Linked DNA regions of Homo sapiens. The protein of the gene in region 2 purifies or fractionates together with the protein of the main gene of each other region. This does not show direct contact. Each region holds a gene or a part of one and is shown on either strand. Other genes may lie near its edges.

The links. Proteins that work in one complex are often made in the same cells at the same time.
Region 1: the proteins of CEP72 (region 2) and ZKSCAN1 purify together in Homo sapiens (affinity purification with mass spectrometry; 2 studies listed by BioGRID and IntAct, with this or other methods). This does not show direct contact.

The regions. Positions count from the first base shown.
Region 1 is NC_000007.14:100,025,485-100,029,133, reverse strand, and holds part of ZKSCAN1 (zinc finger protein with KRAB and SCAN domains 1), read right to left. Parts: intron 1-3,649. UniProt on the Homo sapiens protein: May be involved in transcriptional regulation.
Region 2 is NC_000005.10:629,266-632,914, reverse strand, and holds part of CEP72 (centrosomal protein of 72 kDa), read right to left. Parts: intron 1-3,649. UniProt on the Homo sapiens protein: Involved in the recruitment of key centrosomal proteins to the centrosome.

The sequences.
Region 1 (3,649 bases), on a different chromosome or scaffold from region 2:
GGAGTGCAATGGTGCGATCTTAGCTCATCGCAACTTTCGGCTCCCGGGTTCAAGTGATTCTCCTGCCTCAGCCTCCAGAGTAGCTGGGATTACAGGCATGAGCCACCACGCCCAGCTAATTTTGTATTTTTAGTAGAGGCGGGGTTTCTCCATGTTGGTCAGGCTGGTCTCGAACTCCTGACCTCAGGTGATCTGCCCGCCTCGGCCTCCCAAAGCTCTGGGATTACAAGTGTTAGCCACTGTGTCCGGCCACCTCTGGCTAAGTTTTTGCCAGTTTTTGTCCCTCTACTTTTCTCCCTCACTTGGCCACAATAAATACTGTTTTTTTTTTTTTTTTTTGATAAGATGTATGCATGGTTCAAATGCTGAGACAAAAGTTGGGGCTGACACACAACAAAAGACATGCATAACATTATCACGTGATCACAATAACTGTGATGCATAACAATTATGAAAATTTTAAATTGTGCAATTTAACCCCCTCCCCATCTCTTGCCAAGTACTATTAGATTTGGAAATGTTACTGGTAGACAGATGATGTTAGTGAGATACAAGGATATTTGAGAAATGAATTTGAAACTGAATGACCAAACCTTGTACCTATTTCAAACCTTTATACAACAATAAGATAGGCTCTCTGTCACCCAGGTTGGAATGCAGTGCTCAAACATGTCTCACTGCAGCCTTGACCTCCCAGGCTCAAGTGATCCTCCCACCTTGGTCTCCCCAAATGCTAGGATTACAGGTGTGAGCCACTGTACCCAAGTACTTTTTTTTTTTTTGGAGATGGAGTCTCGCTCTATCACCCAGGCTGGTGTGCATGGCGCGATCTCGGCTCACTGCAACCTCCCCTCCTGGGTTCAAGTGATTCTGCTGCCTCAGCCTCCCAAATAGCTGGGACTACAGGTGCCTGCCACCACGCTCAGCTAGTTTTTGTATTTTTAGTAGAGACGGGGTTTCACCATGTTGGCCAGGATGATCTCGATCTCTTGACCTTATGATCTGGCCACCTCAGCCTCCCAAAGTGCTGGGATTACAGGCGTGAGTCACTGCGCCCAGCCCCAAGTACTTAATTTTTTAAACTTCTGAGAGTAAGGAAACACTCTGGAAAACAAATAAGAAAGAGGAAATTGAGAATAAATGTACATGTCTCAATTTATTTAAGAACTATTTACTAAAGAGCAACTGTGTGTGCCAGGATCTTTGAAACTGTTACTCTGGCAACCTAAACTCTATAATCTAGTGCTTAAGACCATGAATATCCTCTCCAGTTTCCTAAGGTCGCCCTGTGACTTCTGCTTGTAGAGTGTGGAGAAACCTTACAAGAACATCAACAGTAGTGGAGTTAAACATCACGGTGCACCGGTGTTTTTTTTTTTTTTTTTTGAGACAGCATCTCCCTCTGTTGCCCAGGCTGGAGTGCAGTGGCGCAATCTCGGCTCACTGCAAGCTCCGCCTCCCGGGTTCACGCCATTCTCCTGCCTCAGCCTCCTGAGTAGCTGGGACTACAGGCACCCGCCACCATGCCTGGCTAATTTTTTGTATTTTTAGGAGAGACGGGGTTTCACCGTTAGCCAGGATGGTCTCAATCTCCTGACCTTGTGATCCTCCTGCCTCGGCTTCCCAAAGTGCTGGAATTACAGGCGTGAGCCACCACGCCTGGCCACGGTGCACCAGTTTACACAGCTTTCTCTAGCACATACCTGCTGGCTGTCCTCCAGGATGCACGGAAGAGAGGATGCATCCTTAAGCTCCATGTCTAATATTCCTTAAATGTCATCACCAATAAACACACTGGTTAAGGAATGTGCCTCGACCAATTCTTTTTTTTTTTTTTTTGAGATGAGTGTTGCTCTGTCGCCCAGGCTGGAGTGCAGAGGAGCCATCTTGGTTTGCTGCAACCTCCACCTCCCGGGTTCAAGCGTTCTTGTGTCTCAGCCTCCTGAGTAGCTGCGATTACAGGTGTACACCACCACAACCAACTAATTTTTGTATTTTTAGTACAGACGGCGTTTCGCCATGTTGGCCAGGCTGGTCTTGAACTCCTGACCTCAAGTGATTTGCCCACCTTCGCCTCCCAAAGTGCCAGGATTAGAGGCGTGGGCCACTGCGCCTGGCCTTTTTTTTTCTTTTTTGAGATGGAGTTTTGCTCTGTTGCCTAGCTTGGAGGGTGTATGAATTTTTAACAAAAAAAGCTTAAAAAGTATAAAATAAAAATTTTTTTAACTAGAAAAACCCCTATAGAATAGGGGGATAAAAAATGTTTTTGTATAGCTGTGCAACATGTTTGTCTTTTGAGTTATGTTATTACAACAGTCAAAAAGTTAAAAAAATCAAAAAGTTCATAAAGTAAAAAAGTTACAGTAAGCTAATTTATTATTTGTATTTATTTATTTATTTTTTTTTTCTGAGACAGAGTCTCACTCTGTCACCCAGGCTGGAGTGCAGTGGTGCAATCTTGGCTCACCACAACCTCTGCCTACAGGTTCAAGCAATTCTTGTGCCTCAGCCTCCTGAGTAACTGGAATTACAGGCATGCACCACCACGCCTGGCTAATTTTTTTATTTTGTAGAGACAGTGTTTCACTATGTTGGCCAAACCAGTCTGAGACTCCTGGCCTCAAGTAATCCGCCCACCTTGGACTCCCGAAGTGCTGGGATTAAGCCATGAGCCACCATGCCTGGCTGATTTATTATTGAAGAAACAAAAATTTTAAAGATAAATTTAGTGTAGCCTAAGTGTACAGTGTTTCTACAGTCTATGGTAGAGTAGTGTCCTAGGCTTTCACATTCACTCACCACTCACTCACTGACTCATCCAGAGCAACTTCCGGTCCTGCAAGCTCCAGTCATGGTTAAGTGTTCCATACAGGTGTACTTTTTTTTTTTTTTTTTTTTTTTTTGAGATGAGTTTCACTCTTGTTGCTCAGGCTGGAGTGCGATGGCATGACAATGGTGCGATTTTGGCTCACCGCAACCTCTGCTGCCTGAGTTCAAGCAATTCTCCTGCCTCAGCCTCCTGAGTAGCTGGGATTATAGGCACCTGCCACCAGGCCTGGCTAATTTTGTATTTTTAGTAAAGACGGGGTTTCTCCACGTTGGTCAGGCTGATCTCGAACTCCTGACCTCAGGTGATCTGCCTGCCTTGGCCTCCTAAAGTGCTGGGATTATAGGTGTGAGCCACTGCGCTCAGCCAATTTTTGTATTTTCAGTAGAGACCGGGTTTTAACATGTTGGCCAGGCTGGTCACAAACTCCTAACCTCAAGTGATCCACCCACCTTGGCCTCCCAAAGTGCTGGGATTACAGGCGTGAGCCACTGTGCCTGGGCTAAAAATCTTTTATACTCTGTTTTTACTTTTTCGATGTTTAGATACACAAATACTTACCACTGTGTTACAATTCCCTACAGTGTTTAGTACAGTAACATACTGTACAGCTTTGTAGCGTAGGTGTGGAGAAGGCTAGACCATCTAGGTTTGTATAAGTATACTTTATGATGTTCGCACAACAAAATCACTTAACATTGCACTTACCATAACTTATCCCTGCCATTAAGTGATAAATGTACTTTTAGCATTCCTTGTCTTTACATTCTAAGCACATACTTTGATTTTAAAACTGGATAAATGTATTACATATTTCCGTCA
Region 2 (3,649 bases):
GACAGAACCCCACCAGAACTGGTCCAAATCCCGGCACTGGACAGAACCCCACCAGGACTGGTCCAAATCCCGGCGCTGGACAGAACCCCACCAGGACTGGGCCAAATCCCGGCGCTGGACAGAACCCCACCAGGACTGGGTCAAATCCCGGCACTGGATAGAACCCCACCAGGACTGGGCCAAATCCCGGCACTGGATAGAACCCCACCAGGACTGGGTCAAATCCCGGCACTGGACAGAACCCCACCAGGACTGGTCTAAATCCCGGCACTGGACAGAACCCCACCAGGACTGGGCCAAATCCCGGCACTGGACAGAACCCCACCAGGACTGGGTCAAATCCCGGCACTGGACAGAACCCCACCAGGACTGGGCCAAATCCCGGCGCTGGACAGAACCCCACCAGGACTGGGCCAAATCCCGGCGCTGGACAGAACCCCACCAGGACTGGGCCAAATCCCGGCACTGGACAGAACCCCACCAGGACTGGGTCAAATCCCAGCACTGGACAGAACCCCACCAGGACTGGTCTAAATCCCGGCACTGGACAGCACCCCACCAGGACTGGGTCAAATCCCGACACTGGACAGAACCCCACCAGGACTGGGTCAAATCCCAGCACTGGACAGAACCCCACCAGGACTGGTCTAAATCCCGGCACTGGACAGCACCCCACCAGGACTGGGTCAAATCCCGACACTGGACAGAACCCCACCAGGACTGGTCCAAATCCCGGCGCTGGACAGAACCCCACCAGGACTGGGCCAAATCCCGGCGCTGGACAGAACCCCACCAGGACTGGTCTAAATCCCGGCACTGGACAGAACCCCACCAGGACTGGGCCAAATCCCGGCACTGGACAGAACCCCACTAGGACTGGGTCAAATCCCAGCACTGGACAGAACCCCACCAGGACTGGGCCAAATCCCGGCGCTGGACAGAACCCCACCAGGACTGGGCCAAATCCCGGCGCTGGACAGAACCCCACCAGGACTGGGCCAAATCCCGGCACTGGACAGAACCCCACCAGGACTGGGTCAAATCCAGCACTGGACAGAACCCCACCAGGACTGGTCTAAATCCCGGCACTGGACAGAACCCCACCAGGACTGGGCCAAATCCCGGCACTGGACAGAACCCCACCAGGACTGGTCTAAATCCCGGCACTGGACAGCACCCCACCAGGACTGGGTCAAATCCAGCACTGGACAGAACCCCACCAGGACTGGTCTAAATCCCGGCACTGGACAGAACCCCACCAGGACTGGGCCAAATCCCGGCACTGGACAGAACCCCACCAGGACTGGTCCAAATCCCGGCACTGGACAGAACCCCACCAGAACTGGTCCAAATCCCGGCACTGGACAGAACCCCACCAGGACTGGTCCAAATCCCGGCGCTGGACAGAACCCCACCAGGACTGGTCCAAATCCCGGCGCTGGACAGAACCCCACCAGGACTGGTCCAAATCCCGGCGCTGGACAGAACCCCACCAGGACTGGGCCAAATCCCGGCGCTGGACAGAACCCCACCAGGACTGGGTCAAATCCCGGCACTGGATAGAACCCCACCAGGACTGGGCCAAATCCCGGCACTGGACAGAACCCCACCAGGACTGGGTCAAATCCCGGCACTGGACAGAACCCCACCAGGACTGGTCTAAATCCCGGCACTGGACAGAACCCCACCAGGACTGGGCCAAATCCCGGCACTGGACAGAACCCCACCAGGACTGGGTCAAATCCCGGCACTGGACAGAACCCCACCAGGACTGGGCCAAATCCCGGCGCTGGACAGAACCCCACCAGGACTGGGCCAAATCCCGGCGCTGGACAGAACCCCACCAGGACTGGGCCAAATCCCGGCGCTGGACAGAACCCCACCAGGACTGGGTCAAATCCAGCACTGGACAGAACCCCACCAGGACTGGGTCAAATCCCGGCACTGGACAGAACCCCACCAGGACTGGGCCAAATCCCGGCACTGGACAGAACCCCACCAGGACTGGTCTAAATCCCGGCACTGGACAGAACCCCACCAGGACTGGGTCAAATCCCGGCACTGGACAGAACCCCACCAGGACTGGGCCAAATCCCGGCACTGGATAGAACCCCACCAGGACTGGGTCAAATCCCGGCACTGGACAGAACCCCACCAGGACTGGTCTAAATCCCGGCACTGGACAGAACCCCACCAGGACTGGGCCAAATCCCGGCACTGGACAGAACCCCACCAGGACTGGGTCAAATCCCGGCACTGGACAGAACCCCACCAGGACTGGGCCAAATCCCGGCGCTGGACAGAACCCCACCAGGACTGGGCCAAATCCCGGCGCTGGACAGAACCCCACCAGGACTGGGCCAAATCCCGGCACTGGACAGAACCCCACCAGGACTGGGTCAAATCCCGGCACTGGACAGAACCCCACCAGGACTGGGCCAAATCCCGGCACTGGACAGAACCCCACCAGGACTGGGTCAAATCCCGGCACTGGACAGAACCCCACCAGGACTTGGGTCAAATCCCGGCACTGGACAGAACCCCACCAGGACTGGGCCAAATCCCGGCACTGGACAGAACCCCACCAGGACTGGGTCAAATCCCGGCACTGGACAGAACCCCACCAGGACTGGGCCAAATCCCGGCGCTGGACAGAACCCCACCAGGACTGGGCCAAATCCCGGCGCTGGACAGAACCCCACCAGGACTGGGCCAAATCCCGGCGCTGGACAGAACCCCACCAGGACTGGGCCAAATCCCGGCACTGGACAGAACCCCACCAGGACTGGGTCAAATCCCAGCACTGGACAGAACCCCACCAGGACTGGTCTAAATCCCGGCACTGGACAGCACCCCACCAGGACTGGGTCAAATCCCGACACTGGACAGAACCCCACCAGGACTGGGTCAAATCCCAGCACTGGACAGAACCCCACCAGGACTGGTCTAAATCCCGGCACTGGACAGCACCCCACCAGGACTGGGTCAAATCCCGACACTGGACAGAACCCCACCAGGACTGGGCCAAATCCCGGCGCTGGACAGAACCCCACCAGGACTGGGCCAAATCCCGGCGCTGGACAGAACCCCACCAGGACTGGGCCAAATCCCGGCACTGGACAGAACCCCACCAGGACTGGGCCAAATCCCGGCACTGGACAGAACCCCACCAGGACTGAGTCAAATCCCGGCACTGGACAGAACCCCACCAGGACTGGGCCAAATCCCGGCACTGGACAGAACCCCACCAGGACTGGGTCAAATCCCGGCACTGGACAGAACCCCACCAGGACTGGGCCAAATCCCGGCACTGGACAGAACCCCACCAGGACTGGGCCAAATCCCGGCACTGGACAGAACCCCACCAGGACTGGTCCAAATCCCGGCACTGGACAGAACCCCACCAGGACTGGTCCAAATCCCGGCACTGGACAGAACCCCACCAGGACTGGGTCAAATCCCGGCACTGGACAGAATCCCACCAGGACTGGTCCAAATCCCGGCACTGGACAGAACCCCACTAGGATTGGTTCAAAAATTAAAGTTCTGGAAGATTCTGTTCTGCTATGTGATTACACTTTTCCTAGCACATCCACAAGGAGATACACGTGATCAAGAAAGTTAAGTGTTCCAAATGTTCACTTTCACA